Linked DNA regions of Homo sapiens: all the other regions are reported to be linked to region 3. Evidence: microRNA targets listed by miRTarBase, many of them from high-throughput screens and not tested one by one. Region 3 holds a microRNA gene; each other region holds the end of a gene's coding sequence.
Evidence for each region. The annotated mature microRNA hsa-miR-4793-3p reads UCUGCACUGUGAGUUGGCUGGCU and lies in region 3 at 1,240-1,262, opposite strand. An mRNA with a match to its seed (bases 2 to 7 or 8) in the 3' UTR can be bound and repressed. Matches are read on the target gene's strand: a 7mer-m8 pairs with bases 2 to 8, a 7mer-A1 pairs with bases 2 to 7 and ends in A, and an 8mer does both.

Region 1: miRTarBase lists RGS9BP as a target of hsa-miR-4793-3p. The part of its 3' UTR that is shown has no 7-base or 8-base seed match.
Region 2: the mRNA of ZDHHC24 is a reported target of hsa-miR-4793-3p. Seed matches in the 3' UTR shown: 8mer at 2,647-2,654, 7mer-m8 at 1,831-1,837 and 7mer-m8 at 1,201-1,207.
Region 4: miRTarBase lists ARL5A as a target of hsa-miR-4793-3p. The part of its 3' UTR that is shown has no 7-base or 8-base seed match.

The regions. Positions count from the first base shown.
Region 1 is chr19:32,676,782-32,679,781 of GRCh38, forward strand. RGS9BP (regulator of G protein signaling 9 binding protein) reads left to right here. Exons shown (of 1, transcript NM_207391.3): 1 at 1-1,519. The coding sequence ends at 190. Among named protein-coding and RNA genes, the nearest start is that of RGS9BP, 2.4 kb to the left of the region's middle.
Region 2 is chr11:66,536,689-66,539,795 of GRCh38, forward strand. ZDHHC24 (zDHHC palmitoyltransferase 24) reads right to left here. Exons shown (of 3, transcript NM_207340.3): 3 at 1-3,107. The coding sequence ends at 2,841. Among named protein-coding and RNA genes, the nearest start is that of ZDHHC24, 7.8 kb to the right of the region's middle. RefSeq lists an enhancer at 2,912-3,107.
Region 3 is chr3:48,642,962-48,646,068 of GRCh38, forward strand. MIR4793 (microRNA 4793) reads right to left here and starts at 1,319; the gene lies at 1,233-1,319. CELSR3 (cadherin EGF LAG seven-pass G-type receptor 3) reads right to left here. Exons shown (of 35, transcript NM_001407.3): 23 at 2,781-2,907; 24 at 2,482-2,688; 25 at 2,074-2,248; 26 at 1,755-1,867; 27 at 1,255-1,334; 28 at 593-716; 29 at 6-122.
Region 4 is chr2:151,800,615-151,803,721 of GRCh38, reverse strand. ARL5A (ARF like GTPase 5A) reads left to right here. Exons shown (of 6, transcript NM_012097.4): 6 at 398-3,107. The coding sequence ends at 446. Among named protein-coding and RNA genes, the nearest start is that of ARL5A, 26 kb to the left of the region's middle.

The DNA.
Region 1 (3,000 bases), not on the chromosome of region 3:
GACCGTGCAAGCCCGGCAGGCGGCGGGCGCCGAGCTCCTGTCCACGGTCAGCGCCGGCCCCTCCTCGGTCGTGTCCTTGCAGGAGCGCGGGGGGGGTTGCGACCCCAGGAAGGCCCTGGCCGCCATCCTTTTCGGCGCCGTGCTGCTGGCGGCTGTGGCCCTAGCCGTGTGCGTGGCGAAGCTGAGCTGACGGACACCCGACGGCCGCCTGCTGCTGCCGCTCCCTCCCCTGAGAAAAGACTCGGGATGGGTGTGGGGTCTGGCCTGTGCAAGGGGAGTGGTCCTAAAACCCCGTGTGTGCATGGGTACACGCGCGTTTCCAGTGCACATCTGCCTGGGCAGGACACGGTTTCCTCTTGCTGGCCCGGGAGGAGTTAACTTTGCGCCGGCCGTCAGGGCATTACCGCTAACGTCTGCAGGAGCTTTATTCCCTATTAATAGAAAACCGTCACAGTGACCCTAGATCCCTCCGAGTTAATGAGTTAACACATGTGCTGTTGGGGCGTCTTTACAGGGAGTCCGAGTTCGGTGCCCACCCCTGCCAGCGTCGCCCCCTTTCTGCGTGGGACAGTTTGAAAAGGTGGGTGGGGTGGAGTGAAGTTTGGAGAGGGACGCTGTTTGGTTCTATGTGGTTGGTCTGTTTCCCGGACAAGAAAAATTGCAATCAAATGTCAGCAGCTTTTATTACCTTAATCTTTCAGGGCCTAAATTTAGGAGAGTGTCCCGAGAGCAGTTCATACAAAGGGCTTTCTCTAAGACGCGCTACAGCCCTTCCTAGCAGAGTTTATCCATTCGTCCCCAAGAGCAGCTAGAAGAGATTTGAGGTCATGACCTCCCACTGCCGCTCAGGGGCTGACCCTATTTAGGAAACCAAAGAGGGTGGGTTGAACCTACTCTCACGGACTTGGATCCAGTGCGCACACTTGCCTGCGGAAAAGGGCTCTCCCCAGCCACCCGGAGATGGGGGTAAGAGGAAGAGCAGAGGCTTGGGGTAGGGCCACCTGGTGTTTAAACAGGCACTTTCTCCTTCTCTGGGGCTTATTTTTGTTCAGAACTAGACCAGAGTGTTTGAACCTCCTTTGCAGGAGGGCTGGGAATCCTCTTTAGAGCACTTAATCCTATTTATCCCCTGGAATGTGCGTGCTGGCCAGTAGGAGGGCTGGCTTTGGCAGCTCCCTGACCCCCGCGCTGCCCGCCCCTCCGGGGTAATGTGGCATTACTGGCCCACAGAGGTTTTGAGCCAATCAGCTCTGAGACTGGGTTAGAATGTAACAGCTTTAACTTGGGATTTAAGAAGCTTTTAAAAGGTAATAATACTCTGAAAGAAAAATGACGTAACCACAGCGTGTACTATGAAAGCTGTTATTTTAATAAAGAACGCTGGGCCATGAACTCATACCTGCCAATGAGTCAAACATAGTATCTTTATGTAGATACTTAGATTACTAAATATATATTTCATCTACTTCTGAAGTTGATAGTCTTCCCCCCCCCCCACTTTTTTCTTTTTTGAGACAGGGTCTCCCTCTGTCACCCAGGCTGGAGTGCAATGGTGTGATTGTGGCTCACTGCAGCCTCCAAATCTCGGGCTCAAACTATCCTCCTACTTCAGCCTCCTGAGTAGCTGGAACTACAGGTGTGTGCCACCGCACCTGGCTAATGTTTTTAAGGCAGTTAATTTATTTATTTATTTTTATTTTTCTTTAGAGATAGGATCTTGTGGTGTCGCCCAGGCTGGAGTGCAGGGGCGCAATCAGCAAACCACAGCCTTGAACTCCTGGGCTCAAGCTCTCCTCCCACCTCACCCTCCCAAGTAGCTGGGACTAAAGGTGTGCATCACGGCACTCAACTAATTTTTTGTAGAGACAGAGTTGGGCTATGTTGCCCAGGCTGGTCTCAAACTCCTGGCCTCAAGTGGTCCTCCCACCTAGGCCTCCCAAAGTACTGGGACTACAGGCATAAGCTACTATGCTCAGTCTAAAATCAATATTCTTTATTTTTTTCTATAATTTCACTGCAAAATAAAATCTATATTCTTGAGTAGCCACACAAGTGTAAATGACAGAATGTTAAGTGGCCTTTAATTCTTTTGATCAACAAGTAAGAAAATGCTTGGTCCTTGGTCCCAGGATGACATCTGCCTGAGCAGTGCTGCCAAATCCTGCCTGTGGTCCAGAGAGAGCTCTGTCCCATTCTTGGGTAAGTTAGGCTGTAAAAACAGATGCATTTAACTTTCTTTTCTTTTTCTTTTTTTTTTTTTTTTTTGAGATGGAATTTTACTCTTGTTGCCCGGACTGGAGTGCAGTGGCGTGATCTGGGCTCACTGCAACCTCTGCCTCCTGGGTTCAAGCAGTTCTCCTGCCTCAGCCTCCCGAGTAGCTGGGATTACAGGCGATTGCCACCATGCCCGGCTAATTTTTGTATTTTTGGTAGAGATGGGGTTTCACTATGTTGGCCAGGCTGGTCTTGAACTCCTGAACTCAGGTGATCTGCCCACGTCAGCCTCCCAAAGTGCTGGGATTACAGGCGTGAGCCACCTCGCCAGGCCACATTTAACTTTCTAAAGGTAATTTGCAATAAATTCCAGAGACTTTGGCTGAAAACTGACAAGGATTTTTTTTTTAATTCTTTTTTACCCCAGAAGTGAGAACAGGGGTGACCAGGGGAAAGGAATTGGCCATTTTTCACATGGGCCGCTTGGAGGACCAAGGGGCAGAGGTGGATAGCAGAAGGGATGCTGTCAGGACACCCAGACTTAAGATTCACTCTCCCCCCAACCCCCCACTATTCCTCAGGAGGACCAAGAGATTCCAGCAGCTCAGATAGGGCAAATGTAGGATCTGTGTTTGTGTCTGTGATCATGCTTTTAAAAGACCCACAAGGTCTTAAGCTGATTAAATGTTTTGCAATTACTTTTTTTTTTTTTTTTTTTTTTTAAGATACTGGGTCTCTATGTTACCGGGGCTAGAGTACAGTGTCACAATCATAGCTCACTGAAGC
Region 2 (3,107 bases), not on the chromosome of region 3:
TGGAGAAACCCCGTCTCTACTAAAAATACAAAAACAATTAGCCGGGCATGGTGGCACATGCCTGTAATCCCAGCTACCGAGAGGCTGCAGCAGGAGAATCGCTTGAACCCGGGAGGCGGAGGTTTCGGTGAACCAAGATCGCATCATTGCACTCCAGCCTGGGTAACAAGAGTGAAACTCTGTCTCAAAAAATAAAAAGAGAAAGAAAGAAAATAAGAAATTGTGGAGGGCGAGGGATGAAACAGGACAAGGTGAGTCTGCTAATGCGTCTGTGCAGCCCAAAGTGCCAGGTACACCAAGTTCCTCCTGTCATTAAAAAATAGCAACAGAGCATGCCTGTTACAAAAACAACCAGCCAAGCAGCTCAGATCTTTGTGGGCATGGGCAGAGCCTGTCAGAGGGTGGGTTTCTCTGAAGGTTCTTGGGGGTCAAGCATGTTCTTTCATGGGAGGCCCCCCAGCAGTATCTATGGACTTTCACTTAACCCCATTTTTTGGTCTAGCCTCTCACCCACCCCTCCCCAGTACGCCTAAGACCCGAAGCTTCTCTGGTTCCATTTATCCTTCAAATAATCCTCACGTCACACCACCCCACCCAGAGGTGTAGCTGCTGGCTGCATGATGTGGGTGGGGTGTGGGTGGGATGTGGGGGAGCGGCACCCCACTGATCCTTACATAGACTTTCCATCGGTCCCCATTGTTGGCCGAAGCCTCACCTCACCCTCCATGGTCCTGGTGGAGTTCCTGAGCCCCTCCGGGGCTCTGGCAGGTAATTCCACTTGCCTTTTGGCCCCACCTTTTGGGAACACATAATTTCAGCTCTTAATTCTCCATCCACTTTCCATCTTTGAAAATGTCAGCCAGGCGGCCGGGCACGGTGGCTCACACCTGTAATCCCAGCACTTTGGGAGGCCAAGGCGGGCAGATCACGAGGTCAGTAGATCAAGACCATCCTGGCCGGCCAGGAGTGGTGGCTCACACCTGTAATCCCAGCACTTTGGGAGGCCGAGGCAGGTGGATCACAAGGTCAGGAGATCGAGACCATCCTGGCTAACACGGTGAAACCTCGTCTCTACTAAAAATACAAAAAATTAGCTTGGCGTGGTGGCAGGCACCTGTAGTCCCAGCTACTTGAGAGGCTGAGGCAGGAGAATGGCGTGAACCCAGAAGGCGGAGCTTGCAGTGAGCCGAGATCGTGCCACTGCACTCCAGCCTGGCAACAGAACAAGAGTCTGTCTCAAATAAAATAAAATAAAATAAAATAAAATAAAATAATAAAAAATTGTCAGCCAGGCACGGTAGCTCACGCCTGTAATCCTAGCACTTTGGGAGACGGAGGTGGAGGCAGGTGCCAGGAATTCAAGTTCAGCCTGGCCAACATGGTGAAACCCTGTCTATACTAAAAATACAAAAAAATTAGCTGGGCATGGCCAGGCGCAATGGCTCACACCTGTAATTCCAGCACTTCGGGAGGCCAAGGCGGGCGGATCACAAGGTCACGAGTTTGAGACCTGCCTGGCCAACATGGTGAAACCCCCGTCTCTACTAAAAATACAAAAATTAGCCAGGAATGGTGGCGGGCACCTGTAATCCCAGCTACTCGGGAGGCTGAGGCAGGAGAATCGCTTGAACCCAGGAGGCGGAGGTTGCAGTGAGCCGAGATCACGCCATTGCACTCCTGCCTGAGCAACAAGAGCAAAACTCCGTCTCAAAAAAGAAAAAAAAAAAAATCAGCCGGGCATAGTGGCGGGTGTCTGTAATCCCAGCAACTCGGGAGGCCGAATCACTTGAACCCGGGAGGTGGAGGTTACAGTGAACCGAGATCGTGCCACTGCACTCCAGCCCCGGCAACAGAGAGAAAAAAGAAAATGTGGTCAGGCTCTGTGTTCTACTGTCTTCCCTCCTGTTTTCTTTCCCTTTGTATTATTTTTGATTTTCTTTACTATCATCTTAGAGAGATCCTAAGAGAAAACTGAGACGAACACATGTGTTTAGGCCTGCCATGTGGAAATGGCGGTCTCTATTCATTCTATTTACACGGAAACATTTAACAAGCAGCTCTTGAGGAGGCCAGAGAGGTGCAGGCCTAGCCCTGTCAGCACCACCCTCCACAGATGCCCAAACAGCCCCAGCGCATTTCTTTACCTTGATTTCTTTCCTACTCATTTCCTCCAGCTGTGCAAGGGTAAAGGCAAAAGCACAAAGACCTGGGTTGGACCCTGCCTCCATTTGCCGCACCATGATCTTACCACATGGATTCTTAGAGCGTAACTGCTGCCCCATGGACCAGGTTAGCTAAGAGAGGTTCCATGAAACTGCTGTTGCAGAAATGCTTCTAACTATAAAATGCCAAACCTGGGAAAGAATGTTTGGATTCTCATAGCCTGGATCAGTAGGACACTGCCTTGGCGTGCTGGTGCCCCACCCCCAACTCACCCAGGCCAGGGGAGGTAGAGCCCCAGCCCCTGAGACCCTCAGGCATCCTGCAGTTTCCAGGCCCTACAGAGGGTCCCAGAAACAGCCCCAGCAACAAAGTGAGGGGCCAGAAACTATGCAAAGATGGAGGGAGGCTGAGAAACAAGTCAGTGCTTTATTAACCTGGCAAAGGGGCAGCTAGGCGGCCTGAGCAGCCCCTGCCAGACCCTCCTCTGCACTCCTCTGCCTAAGTCACGGCCCAAGCCCTGGACACGTAGGAGTGTAGGCGGGCAGGGGCAAGGCCAAGGAAGGGGTGGAGTTGTCCAATGCAGATGTTAAGGTCCAACCCGACTTCCTTACTGAGTCTAGGTGTGGGGGCCCCCCTCTCACCCCTTCCTCCCTGCACAGCTCTGGCTCTTCCTGGAGTCAGGAGGCTGTGTGTCCCACATCTGCTGTGGTCTGGAAGGTGATCCCATCCCCAGGCAATGGGGAGGCCAGGAAGGGCCAGAGCCAGACGAGGGCCCAGCGGGGCCCCAGGGCTGCCTGCAGGTTGTGGCAGGGACCCAGGTCATAGGAGTGCTGGCCCCGAGCCCACTCCCATGTGGTCTGGCCCCGCAGCAGCAGCATCCCATGGAAGAGCAGCCCAGCCCCGCACAGCAGCGCACCCGCCACGCACGTGTCCGTCACGAAGGC
Region 3 (3,107 bases):
CTCACCAGCCCAGGTGCTGGCCTTGCCTCCTCAGGCGCTGCCTTCCTGCCCAGACAGGCTGGCATCCAGGCAGCCCGAGCATCTGCATTTAGGACACAGAAGAGCAGCAGCACCGCCAGGCCCTGTGGGTCAGCGAGGGTCAAAGCAGAGTCGGCAGGGATCAATCAGGGACCAGTATAAGTCACTGTGGGTCAGCAATGGGGTCAGTCACTGTAGGCTAGTGTGGGTCAGTGAGGAGCCCATGCGGGACTCAGTAAGGGAGTTGGGGAAGGTCAGCAGGGGAGAGGATGGAGCAGCAGGAGTGGCTGGAGTCTGTAAGGTCGGTGTGGATCAGCAAGGGGTCGGGAGCCTTGGTGTTGGTGAAGGTCGATCCAAGATCAGCACTCAGTCTGGGATCAGTGCCTAAGTTAGAGTCAGCTCCAGGCCTGGGGGCAGCAGCTAGGGCCAGTGTCTGGTCTGGGGTAGTACCCAGCCTGGCAAAGTTATCCAGTAAGAGTCAGCTCCAGGCCTAGGGTCAACGTCTGCCTAGGGATGGCCCCAGCCTACTGAAGGCCCACCTGGTTCTGGGGCAAGGGAGGGGCACCAGAGTCACCTGGAGGCCGCAGAGTCCAGCATGGAGGTAGTGGAAGGCTAGGATGCTGTGGTTGACTGCCAGGAGCCCAAAGAGCCAGGAGGCACTGACCAGCAGAAGCAGCAGGAAGGAGCTGCGAAGGGTCCTGCTGTGGGGACATGGGAAGACACAGGAGGACATGCAAGGCTCATGTAGGACTCATGCAGGGAACACGGGAGGACACACAGGGGCCACACACGAAACGTGAAAAAAAGGAACTCACACGGGAACATGGAGGTCTCTGGAGGACACTGGGGGAGATGGGAGGTCCCACAAAGAAACAGGAGAGCAGTCAAAGAGCCATGAGGACACGTGGGGAAAACACAGGGGTATGGGAGCCACAAGGGAGGGCACGGAAGACAGGTGGGAACACACAGGGCAGGGGGCAAAGTGAGCCACCCAGGCCATGGGAGACTCTGGGGGGACCCAGAGGACAAGGAGAGACAGCAGGGCAGAAGCACATGTGGGGCTACAGTATAGCGAGGGCGCCAGAGAGGGACCACAGGTCAGGGCAGGTGTGACTTCATTCCTTCATCTAGAACTTGGAGCCCAACCTGCACCAGGGAAGATCTGGGGGCCCCAGACCCCACCCAGGAGGGACCTGCCATCCTGAGAAGCCCCCTTCCTCCAGCCAGCCAACTCACAGTGCAGAGGTCTTCTTGGCCTCCCTCTGCCCTGTGGAGCAGGATGTGCGGGCAGCGAGGAGAAACATGGTCCCGTTCATCTGGACCCACGGCCAGACATGTGGGGCCGGGCAGGGCAGAGAGAGAGAGAGAGAGAGAGGCAATGAGAGACAGAGAGAGACTAAGATTCACGGAGAGAGGCAGAACCAGTGAGAAATTCACACATATACACACACACCAAAGGAGCTTAGCATCACAGAAAAAGAAATTGGGAACCAGAGAGGGACTGAGAGAGAGAAGCAGAGACAGAGGCAGGGACAGGCAACTGAATCTCTGACCCCGCGCCCCCATCTCCATGCCAGTTGAATGGGGGTGGCTACTGACCAGAGGACAGAAAAAATGAAGGCCGAGCCCAGGAAGCCTGCAGAATGCCACCTGACCGCCCTCAGCTGAGTCCACTGCACCTCCTCCCCCAATGAGGGAGGGAAGTACAGAGGGGGCACCAAGTCCAGGGCACTCACCACTATGACCAGGACAACAGGGCCAGCAAAGCTCCAGATGAGGGGCTCGTGGACTGAGATCCAGCAGAAGTCAGGGTTCCCATAGCCCTCAGGGTCCAGGCCCACAGCAAGGCCTTGGGAAGAGAAAGGGTAGGACTGAGGGTGTGTGTTCCAGAGCTGCTGACCAGCCCATGTATGGGAGAAAGCATGGGTGAGGGCAGAGCAGCAACCCCATGAATAGATGGCTTGGGGTTTGAGGTTGGGGGTCATGAGCAGGAGTGGGGACAGGGTCAGGGGTCAGGCCATGTGATGGTTGGAGGTTGGGGGTCACAGCCCTCACCCAGCAGCACAGCAGGGACGCCCCAGCCCAGGGCATGGTAGAAGCGCATGGCGCCGCGGTCCACGTTGCGTGGCTCAACCTGCATGCGGTAGAGGTGCAGCCCCTGCACGAAGAGCCACGCGAAGGTGCTGAGGAAGAAGTAGTGCAGGAGGATGGCGACTGCAGTGCACACCAGCTGAGGGCAGGGGGGCGTGTCAGGACCTCTCCTGCCTCACCCACCTCTGACCCCTACCCCAGGCATCTGCTTCCCACCTCTCACCCCTAAACCACAATATCTTACCCCAGCATCCTGCTGAAAACCCTGGCCCCAACCTGAGCATCCCTGACCTCTGACCCTGAGTTTTGGCCCCAGGCCTCCTGGGCCAGTAGGGTCATCAGGACACAAGTTCCCTGGCCCTGATCCTGCACCTGATTGTGGGTCCTGTGAATCCCCAGCAGGAAGAGGAGCTCTGCCACCCCCAGGGCGGCTGCCACATTGGCATGGATCCCACGCACATTGGACTTGAGGCTGCGCAGGCTCAGCAGGATGGCTGCAGTCAGCACCAGCGCAGCCACAGACACAGCCACGACCACGTGGGTGAACACAGCCAGCAGCTCCAGGTCGCCCTCCAGCCTCTACAGAGACAGGGATGGTTGATGGGTTGTTGGGCAGAATCCCCGTGTCCCTTTGACCCCCCACTTCCTTGGGACACTGAACACAGCCCCACCTCACGGGGAGAGGCATCCATGAGGACCCCAAAGGTCCCTGTCCGGCTGCAGCGACACCGTGCGTGGGACCCATTCCTGTGCACCAGCTCGCAGTCCCGTGCTGTCCACACACCATGCTGCTCCGCCCTGCAGCCACAGGGCAGTTAGACACAACTGTGACCCAGTGTCAGGCAGGGGTTTGTGAGAGATCATGGGAAGGGCTGAGGGTGCCTGGAGTTGGGGTACAGCATTCCTCATGGTCCGGGTTGCACAACAGCACTAGTGGGGGCCCCAGGGGAAGGCTGGGACTATTAGTTGGCCTCCCAAGGGCTAACGGGACCAAGGGT
Region 4 (3,107 bases), not on the chromosome of region 3:
CGTTCTGGGTGCTAGAGATATAACTGAACCAAAAGAGCACAGATGTATTAGCTGGGTGTGGTGGCACACGCCTGTAGTCCCTGCTGCTGGGGAAGCTGAGGTGGGGAGATCGCTTGAGCCCAGGAGGTCACGGCTGCCATTGATTGTGCCATTGCACTCCAGCCTGGGTGACAGAGTGAGACCCTGTCTAAAAAAGAGGAAAGACAAAAAAAGCACAGATGTATTGTGTATGAGAATATGGCTTCACTGCAGCAGCCCAAGCACTGAATATTATTGATTTTTAAATCTTTGTTATTTAGCTAAATGAAAAATGCTCTCTTTTAGTTTGCTGTTCATAGTTTGCTGCTCATAGCTTCTTAGTTCAGAATTTAATCAAATGATTTTGTTTTCTTTATAGATTGTGCCAAGGACTTGAATGGATGATGTCACGACTTAAGATTAGATGATCTCTACTGACCTCTTCTCATAGATTTTGTATAAATGAAGTGCTGGACTTTACCTGAAAGCTGCAAAAATTAATGGTTTAGATATATTTATAATAAACTGATTTAAACTTTTTCTATAAGAAGAAAAATTAAGACCACTTATTTGAAAACAAAGATGAAGTCTCACCTTCCAGTTTGCTTTCTCATTAGTTTTTTCCAAAGTAAGTTATTGAAGCTGTGATTGACATTTTTCTCATAATGAATCCTCTCAGGACATTGTGTAGCCTATGGTAAGTACAAAGGGAGAGGAAGACATTTTGAATTTTAAGAGCTTTATTATCAGTTTAACCCTCCCTAGTTGAATGTTATTTTCTTCTTGTTCCATTAAGTCAGAATACAAATCAGCACAGATATTCGAATGTTTCCAATATTTTAAAATGTAATGTTACTTATGAAAAGTATTTTGCTTAAGGTTGTGTGTGTATTGTGTATATACCTCAAGTTCAAGTTAATGGCATTGATTTATGTTCCAGACAAAAATAACACAAATAATAATATCCTTCGTTATAACCACAATGAGATAAGTATTGGCATTAGTGTTCAGTGCCATTTTATACTTTCTCTCTGTGTTCTCTGTATTGTACTAACCAACCTCCCAAATCGCTGAGCTGCTTGTTTAAAAAAAAAAAAAAGGAAAAGGAAAAAGCATGACATTGTGTATCGATTTTTTGTTGTTGACCAAAATCACACACATGGAAACATGTAATTCAACAGAGTGGGAAAGCTAGCAGATTCTTGGCTTAGTATTACTAATAGGCAGGATTGTACAATGAGCAACTATCAGATTATTCCTTTCAGTGGTTCTTATGGCATCTAAATTACTGAATAAATTATTAATCCATTAATCAGTGAATCAAATTATGATTACAATTATCAAATGAATGCTCAGCATTAATTGAAAACTGTTTTGTGAAACATGTCTACCCAGAAAAGTAGCATTCTATAAATACTATTAAACAACTTAGCTATATTATTTTTAAGTATTAAATTATATGTCAAGCAGTTAAAGTGAATTTCAGAGTAAAAGTAAGGCATGTTTCTGAGCAACATTGATAATTTCTTAATTTGCAAATTTCTTCTTATTTTGGTACTTGGAATATAGTGTGAGATTTTTTATTTCTAAATTTTGTTGTATCTTCTATTACATAAATGCATTGACAATTATAAAATGCAAGTGTTTTTTGAATGATTTTAAGAATTTGGCTTAAAAATTGATTGATACAACGTATTATTTGTACTAAGAAGTAACTTGACCCAAAACACCTTTTATGTTTGCTTAGGGTATATTTTTTCAGTGTCTGAAAGTCAAAGGTATTCCTGTCACAACTGTAAACAAACTTATCCTAAATGTGTTAAAACATATTCTTGGGTACTCTATTTATGTATCTTTCATGCCTTGAAAATCTGAAGGTTAATCCAAACTCACATGTTTTAGCATATTTGAGAAAAAAAAACTACCTTCAATATCAGCCTTTTAAATTTCATGAAGATTTTGGTGAGGAATAATAGTATATAGTTTAAGTATTGACAAAACTTTGAAAGTTTCTTTCTTTAAAATGGGAAATACTCAATATCTAAATCCAGGTCAGGCATGGGATATCAGTATTTAACATTGGATGTTTTATGTTTTATATTTATAATGTTCAAAATGCAAGCATAACATTTAATATTTGTCCACATGGTTTTACAAAAGTAAATCTTAAATTACTAAGCTTTTCCCATATGTTCTCGTACTTTCTCAAATCCCTATAAAGAATTACTTGTTATCTATTAAAAATCTCCTTTACCCAAATCTGTATTATGGTTTCGCCAGACAAATATTATGTGATGTAGCCCAGAAAATCCACACCTTTTGTCCTTTTTATGTTTTAATTTGAATAATCATGTGCTTAGTCCCTTGGATTACTGCCACATCAGTTTAACACGATATCAGCACATTCCCTTGTCATCATCAAGGTGTTGGCTCAGATTTATTCTTAATTGGATGTTTAAAGCATGTACTACCTTGTTACAGTTGGTTTAGTGTAGTGGATTATTGACATGACATCATGAGAAGATGTGTAATTTTATACCACATTTATAAAACATGATTTTGTTTTCTACCCTTCAAGGTAAACATTAAAAATAAGGTGGTACTTGTGTACTTGTACATAAAACCAAAATTATAGTTGGGAAAAAAATAAATTTATATATGAAAATGTCAAAATCATTTTAAAAGTATTATTTTCAAATAAAATGGAGAAGCTGGTGAAAAGTCATATTGGCAATTTTTATGTAGTTTAAGTGGAATTAAGCAGAGGGAGATGCTTTTGGGTTTTTAATATGCCACTTCTGAGTGAAAACATCTCGTGGAGTCATTGTGTTCAGCTCTGAGAAGAACAAAGATTCATAGTTCTGTACATGTGGCTGGATTTAAATATCCTGTTTTTGATACTAATTTTGAAAGTCATGTAACTTCTTTTGATATCTGGGCAAAAGTAACCATATGCTATAAGCATTTGAATATGTTTAATTTTATCATAATAGCATCTGTAAAAGTACATCTTACACATTATATAGAGGGTTCTTGTTTGAAATTTTCAGTTCTCTTTATCTTCCCAGTACCTCTTGGTCCTCATAATG